Regions from separate parts of the Homo sapiens genome. Here region 1 is linked to region 2. The links come from fine-mapping of genetic effects on gene expression. Tissue or cell type: pancreatic islets. Region 2 holds a variant in brackets; the other region holds the start of a gene. All regions are shown on one strand. Distances are from middle to middle.

Region 1 (8,110 bases), 460 kb before region 2:
AATACCACCTTGCTGTCAGTGTAAACAAGGGCGTAGCCTGAAAGCACTGAGGCCACTGACAACCAGTAGCCTTCCTATCAAAAATCCTTACCCAGCAGGTTTCCTAACAGGGGATCTAAATCTTAATTAATTCCCATACAAAGGTCTGACCAGATCTAGGAGGAACTCCCTTCAGGACAGGACGGATAGATGGTTCCTCCTGGGCAATTAAGGAAAAAAAAAACACAATGGGTATTCAGTAAATAATAAGGAAACTCTTGTAGAAGCAGTGTTAGGAAAATTGCCTAATAATTGGTCTGCTCAAATGTGTCAGCTGTTTGCACTCAGCCAAACCTTAAAATACTTACAGAATCAGGAAGGAGCCATCTATACCAATTCTAAGTTAATATGGACTGAACGAGGTCTTACTAATAGCAAAGAATAATTGAAATCCCAAACTTACAAGGTTTTCAACTAACGTAAAGTTTGCTAAAAGTTAACAGTGTAACATGCATTATCCTACTACCATACACTCTCAAAGGATTTCTCAGACAGTTTGCATGAAATAATGAAATCTATCCTTACTCTACAATCCCAAACAGACTCTTTGGCAGCAGCGACTCTCCAAAATCGCCAAGGCCTAGACCTCCTCACTGCTGAGAAAGGAGGACTGTGCAGCTTCTTAGGGGAAGAGTGTTGTTTTTACACTAACCAGTCAGGGATAGCACGAGATGCCACCCGGTGTTTACAGGAAAAGGCTTCTGAAATCAGACAACACCTTTCAAACTCTTATACCAACCTCTGGAGTTGGGCAACATGGCTTCTCCCCTTTCTAGGTCCTGTGGCAGCCATCTTGCTGTTACTTGTCTTTGGGCCCTGTGTTTTTAACCTTCTTGTCAAATTTGTTTCCTCTAGAATTGAGGCCCTCAAGCTACAGATGGTCTTACAAATGGAACCCCAAATGAGTTCAACTAACAACTTCTACCGAGGACCCCTGGACTGACCTGCTGGCCCTTCCACTGGCCTAAAGAGTTCCCCTCTGGAGGACACTACACCTACAGGGCCCCTTCTTCGCCCCTATCCAGCAGAAAGTAGCTAGAGCAGTCATCAGCCAAATTCCCATCAGCAATTGGGGTGTCCTGTTTAGAGGGGGGATTGAGAGGTGAAGCTGGCTGGGCTTCTGGGTCAGGTGGGGACTCAGAGAACTTTTCTGTCTAGCTAAAGGATTGTAAACGCACCAATCAGCACTCTGTGTGTAGCTAAAAGTTTGTAAACGCACCAATCAGCACTCTGTCAAAATGGACCAATCAGCACTCTGTAAAATGGACCAATCAGCACTCTGTAAAATGGACCAATCAGCACTTTGTAAAGTGGACCAATCAGCTCTCTGTAAAATGGACCAATCAGCAGGATATGGGTGGAGCCAAATAAGGGAATAAAAGCAGGCCACCCCAGCCAGCAGCGGCAACCTGCTCGGGTCTGCTTCCACGTCGTGGAAGTTTTGTTCTTTCGCTCTTCGCAACGAATCTTGCTGCTGCTCACTCTTTGGGTCCACACTGCCTTTATGAGCTGTAACACTCACCACAAAGGTCTACGGCTTTACTCCTGAAGTCAGTGAAACCACGAACCCACCGGGAGGAACGAACAACTCCGGACGCGCCACCTTTAAGATCTGTAACACTCACTGTGAAGGTCTGCAGCTGCACTCCTGAAGTCAGCAAGACCACGAACTCACCAGAAGGAAGAAACTCCAGACACATCTGAACATCGAAAGGAACAAACTCCAGACACGCCATCTTTAACAACTGTAGCACTCACAGCGAGAGTCCGCAGCTTCATTCTTGAAGTCACCAAGACCAAAAACCTACTGGAAGGAACCAATTCCGGACACACCATCACCTACGTATTAAGCTCAGCATCACTTAGCTATACTTCTTGATGCTCTCCCTCCCACCACCCCCAACTCCAACAAGCCCCAGTGTGTGTTGTTCCCCACTGTGTCCGTGTGTTCTCATCATTTAGCTCCCACTTACAAGTGAGAACATGCAGTGTTTGGTTTCTGTTCCTGCATTAGTTTGCTGAGGATAATCACTGGAAATACTTGCTCTGTATTTAGAGTTCATAAAATTTGCAACTTATAAAAAGCAGATTCGTATACCTAAGTTATTCCAAATGTAAGTTTTCTATTAACTTATCAGTTTTTAAATTTATATTAAATTAAAAATCAGGTTCTTAATAGCCACAGGTGACCAGCAGTTTCTGTATAAGACAGTACAACTGTTAGAAGTGATTGCTTTAAATGAGGCACTCGCTTCAGGCACTAAGTTTTGAGGGGTGGGGTGCCAGAAGCTCAGTGATCAAGGTAGACAATATTTCAATGCAATATGTTTTTAAAAATTCAAAATCAGGCCAAGCATAGTGGCTCATGCCTGTAATCCCAGCATTTTGGGAGGCCACGATGGGCGGAACAATATTTAAGGTTTAGAAAAATATTTGTGCCCAGGTGTTGGAGACCAGCCTGGGCAACATGGCAAAACCCCGCCTCTACAAAAAATAAATTAATTAGCCCGACATAGTGGTGCACGCATATAGTCCCAGCCACTCAGGAGGCTGAGGTGGGAGGATCGCTTGAGCCATGAAGGTTGAGGCTGCAGTGAGCTGTCATCTCACCACTGCACTCCAACCTGAGTGACAGAGTGAGACCCTGTCTCAAAAAAAAAAAAAAAACCAAAATCAATGCAAAAGATGAATTATGGACAGGATATTGAGGTTTTGAATACAGACATTAACTCAATAAGGGTAAGGCCCGTGTCTGTTTTCTTTATTGTTATATTGACAGTACTTTGAACAAAGTCTGGCTCTTACAGTTGTTTGTCAATATTTGCTGAATGAATTCAAAGGGGACAAAATGTTTAAGGTATGGGTGTTTGACATTTTCTGCCTAGATCCCCAATACCACTCTTGTCTTTATTGGGTCCTTATTACAAAGCACCATTGGCGAAGGTATGGAAGAGAAGCAGTCTCCTACAATTGTGGGTAAGAGTGGATTTTTAAAGCTATTTGGCAATATCCGTCAAAACTTAAAATGTATATAGATTTTAGCTCCAAATTTCTCAGTTTACACCCAACAGAAATAACAGCATAGATGTATAGCATTGCAGTGTTGCTTGTTGAATCAAAAGACTGGAGTGGAAGCAGGGACTTAAGTTTCCGCCTGTAATCCCAGCACCTTGGGAGGCAGAGGCGGGCGCATCCCTTGAGATCACGACTGGGTGACACAGTGAGACGCTATCTCAAACAAACAAACAAACAAACAAACAGTTACACGGGCAGCATGCGAACTCAGCGTACTCAGGGAGGCAGATAAAAGCCGAGACCAAAGTGAAGGAGCCCAGCTGCAAATTCAACTCCGAAAGACCCTGGACTCCGCAAACGTCTGGCCGCGGCTCTTGAGCTCTTCTATTAAGTTTCGGTTTCTGAAGCTTACGTTTAGTTTCGATTTCTTAAGTTTCAGTTTCTGAGCGCTCGGCATCTGATTCAATCTCCAGTTTCCTGTTCTTGCTGGGGCTGGGGTCTCTCCTTTAACAAAGACACGCCGCGCGGCCGAGTCCAGGGGCTGCAGAGGCCTGGCGCGCGCACGCGCACGCGCACGCCCACCGCGCGGCTTCCCGCGGTCCCCGGTGCTGAGGAGAGAGCGATCCGAGGGACTGCGCCGCCCGGACGGCCTGCAGAGCGCTGCCATCATGAGGTAAGGGTTTTCCTTTGCCTCTCCTCCCAAGCCCTGCGTCGGCCTTGGTTTCAAACCGGGCTGCTTTTATTCATTTCCAGCGCAGTTCTGCGGCCTTTTCAGGGGCCGAGCCCCTCGCGCCCAGCAACCGGGCATCTGCGTTGGGGACCCTCCCCGGGCGCTCTGTCCCGGCGCGCGGCGTCTGAAGTCGGGCCTGCCGGGGAGGGTGGCCGAGTGGACGCTTCTCGGGAGTCCGGCCCCTCCCCAGCGCCTAAGAAGGCCGGTCAGGGAGGAGGAACAGGAGATGCTCCCCGGGAGCCTGTCCCATCCCTGGCGTCTGCGGTCGGGACTGTCAGGGTATGTGCCGGGCGACGCTCCCCCGGAAGGCCTGTCCACCCATCGCGACCCGACGGCTCTTCTCGGCAGCGGCGACGGTGACCGTGCTGGGTCCGCGGCCGCCGCCTCCGGGAAACTGGTCAGCGCCTGCAGAGCCCCCAGGCGCTGTTCCGGGGGCAGCTGCTACGTGCCACGGGTCTCCTTAGGCCTGTCGCGTGCCTCTCTTTCCAGCTGCCATTCCCTCGGTGTGGCATACGCGGTTTCGCCGCAGCCCTGCAGGCGTCAGGTTCGCCTGCCACTGCCAGTTTGCGTTTCTGATTTCTGGGTCTGAGTTCTTCCCTTCCCAGGAGCTACCTCTGTACCAAGCACAGATTGTTATCGTCCCACCCAATCCGCTGTTTTATGAGGATTTCTTTATCTGTTTCCTTTACTGATTTAGTATGATGGCGTCCTTTTCTTGATCATTTTGTATCCCCAGGGGCTAGCACCCCGCCCTGCACGTGGTTAGTGAACCTTCCGCATTTAATGAGTTGAGGAATGAGATGTTAAGGTCTTGGGCTCTAAAAGCAGATAGTCCCTTGTTCTAAATCCGGACTGAACTCCTACTAGTTGAGTGATCCCAAAGTTTCTCAAACTCTGTGAGTCTGTTCCTTATTTGTAAAAATTAATGGTGTCCATCTCTTGGGACTGTGGAAAAGGACAGTAATAAATCCTATCAGTTGACTGCTTAGCACATAATACTTGCACAATAAATGTTAATTATTCCCATTATAAGTTTAAAAAAAAAGTTTAAGTGCCACCCACACATCTAACTTTATTTTTGAGACGGAGTCTCGCCCTGTCACCCAGGCTGTAGTGTAATGGCTCCATCTCGGCTCACTGCAACCTCCGCCTCCCGGGTTCAAGCCATTCCCCTGCCTCAGCTTCCCGTGTAGCTGGGATTACAGGCGTGTGCCACCACGCCTGGCTAATTTTTTGTATCTTTAGTAGAGACGCGGGTTTCACCATGTTGACCGGGCTGGTCTCGAATTCCTGACCTCGTGGTCCACCCGCCTCAGCCTCCCAAAGTGCTGGGATTACAGGCGTGAGCCACAACGCCTGGCCACATCTAACATTTGTAAGAAAGGAGAGTGCTATCAGGAAGGGGCTTGACAACAACAACAACAACAAAACAACAACAACAACAAAAAACAGAAAAAGACGGTGGCGTGCACCGTATATATGCAGGATGGGGAGGAAAAGGGCTCAGCCCCATTGGGGACTGTCTCCCAAGGACAATGAAAGTCTGCTTCTTCCTAGCAGAAGAACAGAATTACCGAAAGATACGTGTTACCTCTTCTGATGCAATAGCTTCTCTCTTATTAGCTTCCCAAAGACAAAGTTACAAAATTAAGTAGACAAAGTTTAAACAATAAAAATTCTCATGGTGTCCAGTTGTGCATAAATTCCAGAGCCTGGACAAACCACGTCAGTACCTGATTGAATGTCCCTTTGAGATCTTACAACCAAATCCATAATACCTGAGCAGCCCTCCTCATCCTCCTTGGGCTGGGCTGGTAGAGACCTTCAAAACAGGTGTTTGTTTTAGGCAGGGGGCTGGTAAAGCCATGTTGTTGTGGATTTAAGCAGGCTGTAAGGACATGGCATGTCTTGCCCATATTTTTGGTACAATTACACTAGAGAAAGGAACAATTACCAAGGAGCAATTTTACCAGGTTTCCTAGTCAGGATCAGTACTCATAATACAAAAATGGAATTTTCATATTAATTATTGAATATGTATATATTCATTCCTAATTTTCAATGGTTTAGTGATTGCCAAAAGGAAATAGATACATGTAATACAGAAAGCTCTGTCATCTCTCCAGAACTGTTTTTGCAATAAATAGTGAGAATTTAAATGAAATATTTCTAGGACATAACTGTATATAGAAGAAACTCTAGTATAAAGTTATGGGAAACTTATGTTTTAACTGTAAGATCAAATAGGGATAAAATTAGTTGTTATGCAAAGAACAATATTTAAGGTTTAGAAAATTATTTCTTGTATTTCTTCAAAAATTAAAAAGTATTTTATCTTTGACAGTGAAATTCGTAAGGACACCTTGAAGGCCATTCTGTTGGAGTTAGAATGTCATTTTACATGGAATTTACTTAAGGAAGACATTGATCTGTTTGAGGTAGAAGATACAATTGGGCAACAGCTTGAATTTCTTACCACAAAATCTAGACTTGCTCTTTATAACCTATTGGCCTATGTGAAACACCTAAAAGGCCAAAATAAAGACGCCCTTGAGTGCTTGGAACAAGCAGAAGAAATAATCCAGCAAGAACACTCAGACAAAGAAGAAGTACGAAGCCTGGTCACTTGGGGAAACTATGCCTGGGTGTATTATCACATGGACCAGCTTGAAGAAGCTCAGAAGTATACAGGTAAGATAGGGAATGTCTGTAAGAAATTGTCCAGTCCTTCTAACTACAAGTTGGAGTGTCCTGAGACTGACTGTGAGAAAGGCTGGGCACTCTTGAAATTTGGAGGAAAGTATTATCAAAAGGCTAAAGCGGCTTTTGAGAAGGCTCTGGAAGTGGAGCCTGACAATCCAGAATTTAACATCGGCTATGCTATCACAGTGTATCGGCTGGATGATTCTGATAGAGAAGGGTCTGTAAAGAGCTTTTCTCTGGGGCCTTTGAGAAAGGCTGTTACCCTGAACCCAGATAACAGCTATATTAAGGTTTTTCTGGCACTGAAGCTTCAAGATGTACATGCAGAAGCTGAAGGGGAAAAGTATATTGAAGAAATCCTGGACCAAATATCATCCCAGCCTTACGTCCTTCGTTATGCAGCCAAGTTCTATAGGAGAAAAAATTCCTGGAACAAAGCTCTCGAACTTTTAAAAAAGGCCTTGGAGGTGACACCAACTTCTTCTTTCCTGCATCACCAGATGGGACTTTGCTACAGGGCACAAATGATCCAAATCAAGAAGGCCACACACAACAGACCTAAAGGAAAGGATAAACTAAAGGTTGATGAGCTGATTTCATCTGCTATATTTCATTTCAAAGCAGCCATGGAACGAGACTCTATGTTTGCATTTGCCTACACAGACCTGGCCAACATGTACGCTGAAGGAGGCCAGTATAGCAATGCTGAGGACATTTTCCGGAAAGCTCTTCGTCTGGAGAACATAACCGATGATCACAAACATCAGATCCATTACCACTATGGCCGCTTTCAGGAATTTCACCGTAAATCAGAAAATACTGCCATCCATCATTATTTAGAAGCCTTAAAGGTCAAAGACAGATCACCCCTTCGCACCAAACTGACAAGTGCTCTGAAGAAATTGTCTACCAAGAGACTTTGTCACAATGCTTTAGATGTGCAGAGTTTAAGTGCCCTAGGGTTTGTTTACAAGCTGGAAGGAGAAAAGAGGCAAGCTGCTGAGTACTATGAGAAGGCACAAAAGATAGATCCAGAAAATGCAGAATTCCTGACTGCTCTCTGTGAGCTCCGACTTTCCATTTAAATACATACTCTAGGAAATTAGCTCTAAGTTTTTCCCTTCATTTTGGGTTCTCCTGTTTGTTTTTTTTTTATTATTTTAATCCCTTGTTTATTATAGAGCTAATATTTATTGAATAGTTATTGTGTACCAAGCATTGTGCTAAATACTTTATATGCATTATGATGAATCTTGTGCGGTTTTCTTTCTTTTTTTCTTTTTAATTAAAATACTATAATCCATTGAGAAATAGCAATATTCTAGCTATTGTAACTTCTAAAAATGGTATGGCCATTAGATCTGTGCTTTTTATCTCTGCTCTTTGAATTTCTCATATTATATAGTAAATATATTCCTACGTAAACCTTTGATACCTAGATCAGGAATACTCTTCCAGGAGTACAAAATTACATTATTGATAGTTAAGCTCTTAATTGTGTAGCTTGCAAAAGACAGCACTTTTTAGTTACAGATGTTTTGACTTTGATGAGGATATTTAGCTATCAATCTAATAGTCACCTAAAATATCTTTTTTGTTGGAAAAAAGTTTATAATAAAAAAG
Region 2 (8,110 bases):
CTTGTTGTTTTGTGCCAATTAGGATAATTCATTCCTCATGGCAGCTGTAATTGCAGGTACCACAATGTTCCACTGTCATTTAACATGATTCATTTTTTAAATGTGCTTTACAGTGAAGTTAAGTGGAGCTATCATGTGACTACCACCTTTGCATCCTTTAAATTTTGATGATGGCTTCAATCTCTGAAGGTACTCCTACAATATAGTATTGATTTTGATTTGGTATTTTGTCTGGGGAGAGCAATTACATGAGCTTCTGTTTGGCTCTTCCTAGCATGGTGGCCCTTATTTTACAAAACGAAAAACCAATGTGAACTTTCTGTTAGGCACTGGGTATATCTAGTTCCAACTATACCCTGAGGTATTGGAGAAATAGCCACAGGATGGGTCTAGACTCTCTGTGAGGAGGATTGGGTCAGAAAGTCATATATCACCTGGCTTCCATATGTGCCTACTCTAATAAGCAGGTCAGTGTATTTCAGGTCCCCTTGTGTGACCCAGATCTTGCATCCCAAATCCTGAAAAGGTCTCATTTCCCTTCCTGCCCCCACCACCATTCATTTACTCTGGTCACAGACCCACTGAGAAAGGATTGGAGGGATTTTTAGTGTGTCTACTTGTGTTGGCATTCCAGGGTTCTTCAAGGAGGTTCAGCTTCTTTTTCAATCAATATGCTCTGGATCTATCAATAGGAAAATGGGTGTGGTAACTTGATTTTTTAGTGACAGCTGATACCAACTTTCTGCTGGCCAGTTTCTGATTTTTTTTTTTTCAGTTGACAGACAACACCATAAAAAGCTGTCTATCTATCTTGCCCCTGGGAACACCATGACCTACTGGCCATTAACACAGACCTTGAAGGTCAAGGTACTGGCTGCCACTCTGACCTTGCTCTTCATAGTGGTAATAATGTTCACTTTTCCTCTTACATTTAGGTACTGCCACTGGGACCCTACCATTTTATAGTCCTGTCATTCCTATTGACACTAAGAAACATGATTCTATGACACCGTTTCCTACAGTGAACTTTATAAAGGATAGTTGTCACTGACCTCACTGGAAGTGAGCCCTTCTCACCAGTGCATTCTTTTCAATACTTTAAAGGTGTTACTCTACAGTCTTCTTGCTTCCATAGTTTTTCACATGAGGTCTGTTGTCCGTCTTTGTGTTTCGGTACATCTTCTGTCTTTGTGCTCTGGCTGCTTTTAAGATTTTCTCTTTGTCACTGGTTTTCAGAAATTGTATTATATAATATTTTTTTTTCCCTTCATGCTTCCCATTATGGTACTCCTAATATATATGTTACACTGCTTTATAATGTCCCAGTAACTGATGATCTATTTATTTCATTTTTTTCTATCTATGCTTTATTTTAAATTGTTTTCATTGCTCCGTTTTCTTTTTTAATAGCAGAATATATTTATATATGACTTCTTTATAGGGAAAGGCTTCATAAACAAGTAACAAAAAATCTCACAAAAGAGAGGAGAAATATATTGTATCACCTTTAACTATATAACTACTATACAGGATAATACACCATAAACATAGTTAAAAGATGAGCCACAGACTCAGAGAAGATATTTACAACAAAACAAAAAACTGGTATCCAGAATCTCTTTACTATATTTGTGAGATAGTATATACTTGTAATAATTTGCTAATATTGTTTTTTATGATTGTATAAAGTCTGTATAAAACAGAAATTCAAAGAAAAGTGGGTGATGTGAATTCACAGAAGAGGAAATCAGAATGGCCAATAAACATTAAAAGAGGCTTAGTCTCACTAGTAATCAGGGGAATGCAAATTAAAATCAGATACCTGATTTTTAGCCAATCAGATCAGAAATAACAAAAAGTTTAATCAGGTACTGGGGGTAACTTCTGTTTCATAAAATATAAACTTTTGGCCTGGCACATGGCTCATTCCTGTAATCCCAGAGCTCTGGGGGGCCAAGGTGGGAGGATCTCTTGAGGCCAGGAGATCTTGAGGCCAGTCTGGGCAAAATAGTGAGACCCCATCCCTACCAAAAAAAATTGAGAAAAGATAAACTTGTGATTGTATTAACTACACATGCATTCACTAACTAGACTATAAGTAATTTTCAATAAGCAAGCAATATCTTATCTATTCCACAAACCTAGTGCAATTCTGGGTGCACAGCAGACCACCAGTAATTATTTGTTGATTTAGGGGTTAATCCACAACAGCTGAAAAGGCATGTCAAATATTAGAAAACCTCAAAAAACTTTTAAAGATAAAAGAGATTACCACCTTTCAGATTATTATTGTGCCAATAATAATAGACCACCATCCTCAAAGAGGGAATTGGCATCTCAGTTATTAAGCACTGTAGCTTTACAGCACCAAAAGATGGCTGTCCCTTTCCTGCTGTCTGAATCCATTCACTGGCTGCATCTTTGTGTTATCTACAGGTGTTACAGCCTCAAAAGGGCTCTGTGGGCCAAAGCAACTACTTATCATTCAAACAAACTTAGCCTATTATTTTTAAATAAAGGGCTTCTCAGAGATTTTAATGTGTTAAGGTACATTCTCTGAGAAGATGATATAATATGCAATGATTTTCAAAATTATTTGAACCAAAAAACCTATTTTAATTTTCAGAGTCTCTGGCAGGACTTGTATTCCACACTTTGGGAAATCCTATTCTAGGAGAGCTTTGTATTTATTGAATTAAGGGACTAGTTTCTGTGCATTATTAAACAAATAAAAATTGTGGCAGTAGTTTCAAGTAAATACAAATTGGTTCAATTATTTTGGAAAACTTTTTAATGTTATTCATTAAGGCTGGACAGCAATCCTCTAGGTAGAACACTCAACATTAATGTGTATGTACATAAGGACATCAAGAAATGTACAAAGGAGGCCCAAATCCTTCTGATTGAGGCCCCACTTCAAAAAATATACAAGAAAGTTCATTACAATATACTTTTCATGACAGCTCCAACGTGGAAACAACCCAAATATCCACCCATGGTAGAAAGAAAAATTTATGTAACAGTACATTATTCAAAGTGAACAAACTACCACCTCATAGGACATCATGGAGAATCTCTCAAATCTCTCAACTATAGTGTTGAATGAAAGAATCCAGGCACAGAAAGAATAGACACTATGATTCCATTTACACAAAGTTGAAAAGTAGGAAAACTAATCTATGTTGTTGGAATTTAGGACATTAACTTCTAGAGAGAGGGAGGAAGTATAATTGGGAGGGGTTAAAGGGACTTTCCGGGTGCTGGCCATGTCCTGTTTCTTGACTAAGATGGTGGCTATAGGTGTGTATAGGTGTATTCACTCTGATAATTAATCTCAGAACTTACGCACTTTCCTTTTCATATGTCAGACTTCATTAAAAACATAAAAAACTCAGCAGTCCAGTCAGTCATTCCATGTATTTGTTATTGTGTGCACTCAGTATTCACTGGTGTCATGGTGATCCCAGGGTCCAGCTGTGGCAAGAGCAACAGTAACTGCTCCCAGTCACCAGCTCATGTAATCTTCATGAGAGCTCCACGAATTAAGCTGCTTTTAAAACACCTACTATCCCCTTTCAATAGGTGAGAAAACTAAGGCTTAGGGAAAATCAATTTTCACAAAGTCACAGACTCATAAATGGTGGTGACAAACTCAAATTGAACTCCAAATCTCACGCTCTTAGCTGCTAGATCCTAGGGAGTGTGCTGCCTGCCTGCTATGCTTCCTATGCTAAGGAGGAAGCCCTTCTGACCAGAGCTGCTTTGACTGGGTTTTAATTTCTCTGTTTTTGATTTTTAATTTTGGTGGGTACATAGTAGTATATATACCTATGGGGTACATGGAACATACTGATACAGGCATGTAATGTGAAACAATCACATCAAGGTAAATGGATCATCTATCATCCCAAGCATTCATCTCTTGCATTATGAACAATCCAATTATACACTTTCAGTTATTCTAAAATACAAGATTAAGTTATTATTGACTATAGTCACCCTGCTGTGCTATTAAACACTAGGTCTTACTCAGTCCTTCTATTTTTGCATACCCATTAACTATCCCCACTTAACCACTCCCCTCCCTGACTACTCTTCTCAGCCTCTGGTAATCACCCTTCTACTCTCTATCTCTATGAGTTCAATTGTTTTAAACTTTAGCTACCACAAGTAAGTGAGAACATGTGAAGTTTCTTTCCATGCCTGGCTTATTTCACTCAACATAATGATCTCCAGTTTCATCCATGTTGTTGCAAATGACAGGATCTCATTTTTTTCATGGCTGAATAGTACTCCATCATGGATATGTACCACATTTACTTTATCTGCTTATATTTTGATGAACATTTAGGTTGCTTCCAAACTTTTTTATTGTGAATAGTGCTGCAATAAATGTGGGTATGCAGATATCTCTTCCATATACTGATTTCCCTTCTTCTGGGTAAATACCTAATGCTAAATGACAAGTTAATGGGTGCAGCACACCAGCATGGCACATGTATACATATGTAACTAACCTGCACATTGTGCACATGTACCCTAAAATTTAAAGTATAATAATAATAAAAAAAATAAAATTCATGTTGAAACTTGAAAAAAAAATACCTAGTAGTAATGTTACTGGATCAAATGGTATCTCTATTTTAGTTTTCTGAGATAAAAACCACAAGAACCAAACTGTTCTTGTGGTTGTACTAGTTTGCATTCCCACCAACTCCTGTGTACAAGGGTTTCCTCTTCTCCACATTCTTGCAAGCATTTATTATTGCCTGTCTTTTGGATAAAAGCCATTTTAACTGGAGTGAGATAATATCTCATTGTAGTTTTGATTTGCAGTACTCTGATGATCAGTGATGTTGAACATCTTTTTATGTGCCTGTTTGGCATTTGTATGTCATCTTCTGA[G/A]AAATGTCTATTAAGATCTTTTGCCCATTTTTTAATTGGATTATTAGATTTTTTTTTCTATAGAGTTGTTTGAGCTTCTTATATATTCTGTTTCTTAATCCCTTGTCAGGTGGAGGGTTTGGAAATATTTTCTCCCACTTGGTGGTTTGTCTTTTCACTGCATTGATTGTTTCCTTTGCTGTGCAGAAGCTTTTTAACTCTAGTTGATCCCATTTGTCCACTTTTGCTTTGGTTGACTGTATTCGTGTGGTATCGCTCAAGAAATTTTTGCTCAAACCAATGTTCTGCAGATTTTCCTCAACGTTTTCTTGTAGTAGTTTCATAGTTTGAGGTCTTAGACTTAAGCCTTTTATCTGTTTGATTTTTTAAAATTAATATATGGTGAGAAATAGGGGTCTAGTTTCAGTCTTCCACATATGGGTATCTAGTTTTCTCAGCATAGTTTGTTGAAGAGATTGTCCTTCCCCAGTGTATGTTCTGGCACCTTTGTCAAAAATGAGTTCACTGTAGAGGTAAAGATATGTTTCTGGGTTCTGTATTCTGTTATATTGGTCTATATGCCTGTTTTTTTTTTTCTTTTGCCAGTGCCATGCCATTTTGGTTACTGTAGTTCAGTACTATAATTTAAAGTCAGGTAATATGATTCAAGTTTTGTTCTTTTTGCTTAGGATAGCTTTGGCTATTCTGGGTCTTTTGTGGTCCATATGAATTGTAGGATTGTTTTTTCTACTTCTATGAAGAATGTCATTAGTATTTTGATAGGGATTATATTGAATCTGTAGATTGCTTTGGGTAGTATGAAAGTTTTAACAATATTGATTCTTCCAATCCATGAACAGGTAATATTTTTCCATTTTTTTGGTGTCCTTTTCAAATTCTTTCATTAGTGTTTTATAGTTTTCATTGTGGAGATCTTTCACTTCTTTGGTTAATAACTGGATATTGAATTTTATTTGTAACTGTTATAAATGGGATTACTTTCTTGATTTCTTTTTCATATTGTTTGCTGTGGCATATGTAAATGCTACTGGTTTTTGTATATTGATTTTATATCCTGCAACTTTACTGACTTTACTGACTATTAGAACTATTACAGTTCTAATAGTTTTTTTTTGTGTGGAGTTTTTAGGTTTTTCCAAAGATAAGATCATATCATAAAAACAATGTTAATTTGACTTCTTCCTTTCTGATTTTGATGCCCTTTATTTCTTTCTCTTGTTTGATTGCTCTAGCTAAGACTTCCAGTAATATGTAGAATATCAGTGGTGAAAGTGGGCAACCTTGTATACCATATCTTAGAGGAAAGGCTTTCAGTTTATCCTCATTCTGTATAATACTAGATGTGGATCTGTTGTATGTGACTTTTATTATGTTTAGGTGTGTTCCTTCTATACTCAGTGTTTTGAGAGTTTTTATCTTGCGGGATGACAAATTTTATTAAATACTTTTCCAGCGTCAGTTGGAATGATCATATGGTTTTTGTCCTTCATTCTGTGATGTGATGTATCACGTTTATGGCTTTGTGTATGTTGAACCATCCTTGCATCCCTGGGATAAATTCCACTTGGTCCTAATAGGTTATCTTTTAAATGTGTTGTTGAATTTGGTTTGCTGGCATTTTGTTGAGGATTTTTGCATAGGGATATTGGCCTTTACTTTTCTTTTTCGGATATGACTCTGGTTTTGGTATTAAGGTAATACTGGTGTCATACAATGAGTTTAGAAGTATTCACTCTTCCTCTATTTTTTGGAATAGTTTGAGTAGAATTGGTATTAGTTCTTTTTCTTTACTGGGAGACTACTTATTACAGCTTTGATCTCATTACTTGTTATTGGTCTATTCAGGTTTTGGATTCCTTTATGGTTCAATCTTGGTAGGTTTCATGTGTGTAGGAATTGATTCATTTTTTTTCAAGGTTTTCCAATTTATTGTCATATAATTGCTTATAGTAGCCTCTGGTGATCCTTTGAATTTCTGTGGTATTGGTTGTAATGTCTCCTTTTTCATCTCTGATTTTATTTATTTCAATGTCCTCTCTTTTTTCTTAGCTATGCTAGCCAAAGGTCTGTCAATTTTTCTTTTCAAAAAAGCAACTTCTTGTTTTGTTGATATTTTGTATGGTTTTCTTTATTTATTTCTACTCAGATCTTTATTATTTCTTTTCATCCACTAACTTTGCATTTGGCTTGCTCTTCTGGTTCTTTCAGATGCATCATTAGGTTGTTTATGTAAAATTTTTCTTCCTTTTTGATGTAGGCACTTATAGCTCATTACTGCCTTCACTGTATTCCATAGGTTTTGGTATGTTGTTTTTCCATTATCACTTGTTTCAAGAAATTTTAAAATTTCCTTCTTAATCTCTTCACTAGATTACTGGTCATTCAGGAGCATATTGTTTAATTTCCATGTGTTTGTATAGTTTCCAAAATTCCTCTTATTATTGGTTTCTAGTTTTATTGTACTGTGGTGAAAGAGGATTCTTGATATGATTTCAATTTTTGAATGTTTTAAGACTTGTTTTGTGGCCTAAAATAGGGTCTCTCCTTGATAATGATCCATGTCCTGAGGAGAATGTGTATTCTGCAGCCATTGGATGAAATGTTCTGTAAATATCTATTAGGTCCATTTGGTCTATAGTACATAATGAGTCCAATATTTCTTTGTCGATTTTCTCTCTGGATGATCTGTCCAACGCCAAAGGTGGGGTGTTGAAGTCTACAGTTATTTTTGTACTGAGGTCTCTCTCTCTCTTTAGCTCTAATAATATTTCCTTTATATGTCTGGGTGCTCCTTTGTTGGGTGCATATATATTTAAAATTGTTATGTCCTCTTGCTGAATTGACTGCTTTTTCACTATATGACCTTCTTTGTCTGTTTTTATAGTTTTTCTATTGAAAGCTATGTAGTCTAATATAATATAAGTATAATTACTCTTGTTTTTTTTTTTTGTTTGTTTGTTTTCCATTTGCATGGACTATCTTTTCCCATCCCCCTTAATTTCAGTCCATGTGTGTCTTTACAGGTGAAGTCTGTTTTTTGTAGGCAAAAAGTCACTGGGTTCATTGGGTCTTTTTTTTCTTTTTGATTCATTCAGCCAGTCTGTGTCTTTTGTTTTGAGAGTTTAGACCATTTACATTCAATGTTACTGTTGATGAGTAAGGACTTACTCCTGCATTTTGTTGTTTTCTGGTTGTTTTGTTGTCT

Evidence for each region. PIP is the estimated chance that this variant, and not a neighbour inherited with it, causes the effect.
Region 1: IFIT5 starts here. The variant in region 2 is fine-mapped to the expression of IFIT5 in pancreatic islets (PISA, PIP 0.94).

The regions. Positions count from the first base shown.
Region 1 is chr10:89,411,077-89,419,186 of GRCh38, forward strand. It overlaps IFIT5 (interferon induced protein with tetratricopeptide repeats 5), which reads left to right and starts at 3,492. Exons shown (of 2, transcript NM_012420.3): 1 at 3,492-3,727; 2 at 6,129-8,110. The coding sequence starts at 3,723. The coding sequence ends at 7,572. It also overlaps a transcript of LIPA not described here. RefSeq lists enhancers at 3,349-3,658, 4,269-4,368, 4,469-4,538.
Region 2 is chr10:89,874,607-89,882,716 of GRCh38, forward strand. All of the region lies in intron 1 of LINC01374 (long intergenic non-protein coding RNA 1374), which reads left to right. Among named protein-coding and RNA genes, the nearest start is that of LINC01374, 25 kb to the left of the region's middle. The variant G/A (reference allele first, on the strand shown) is at 4,906.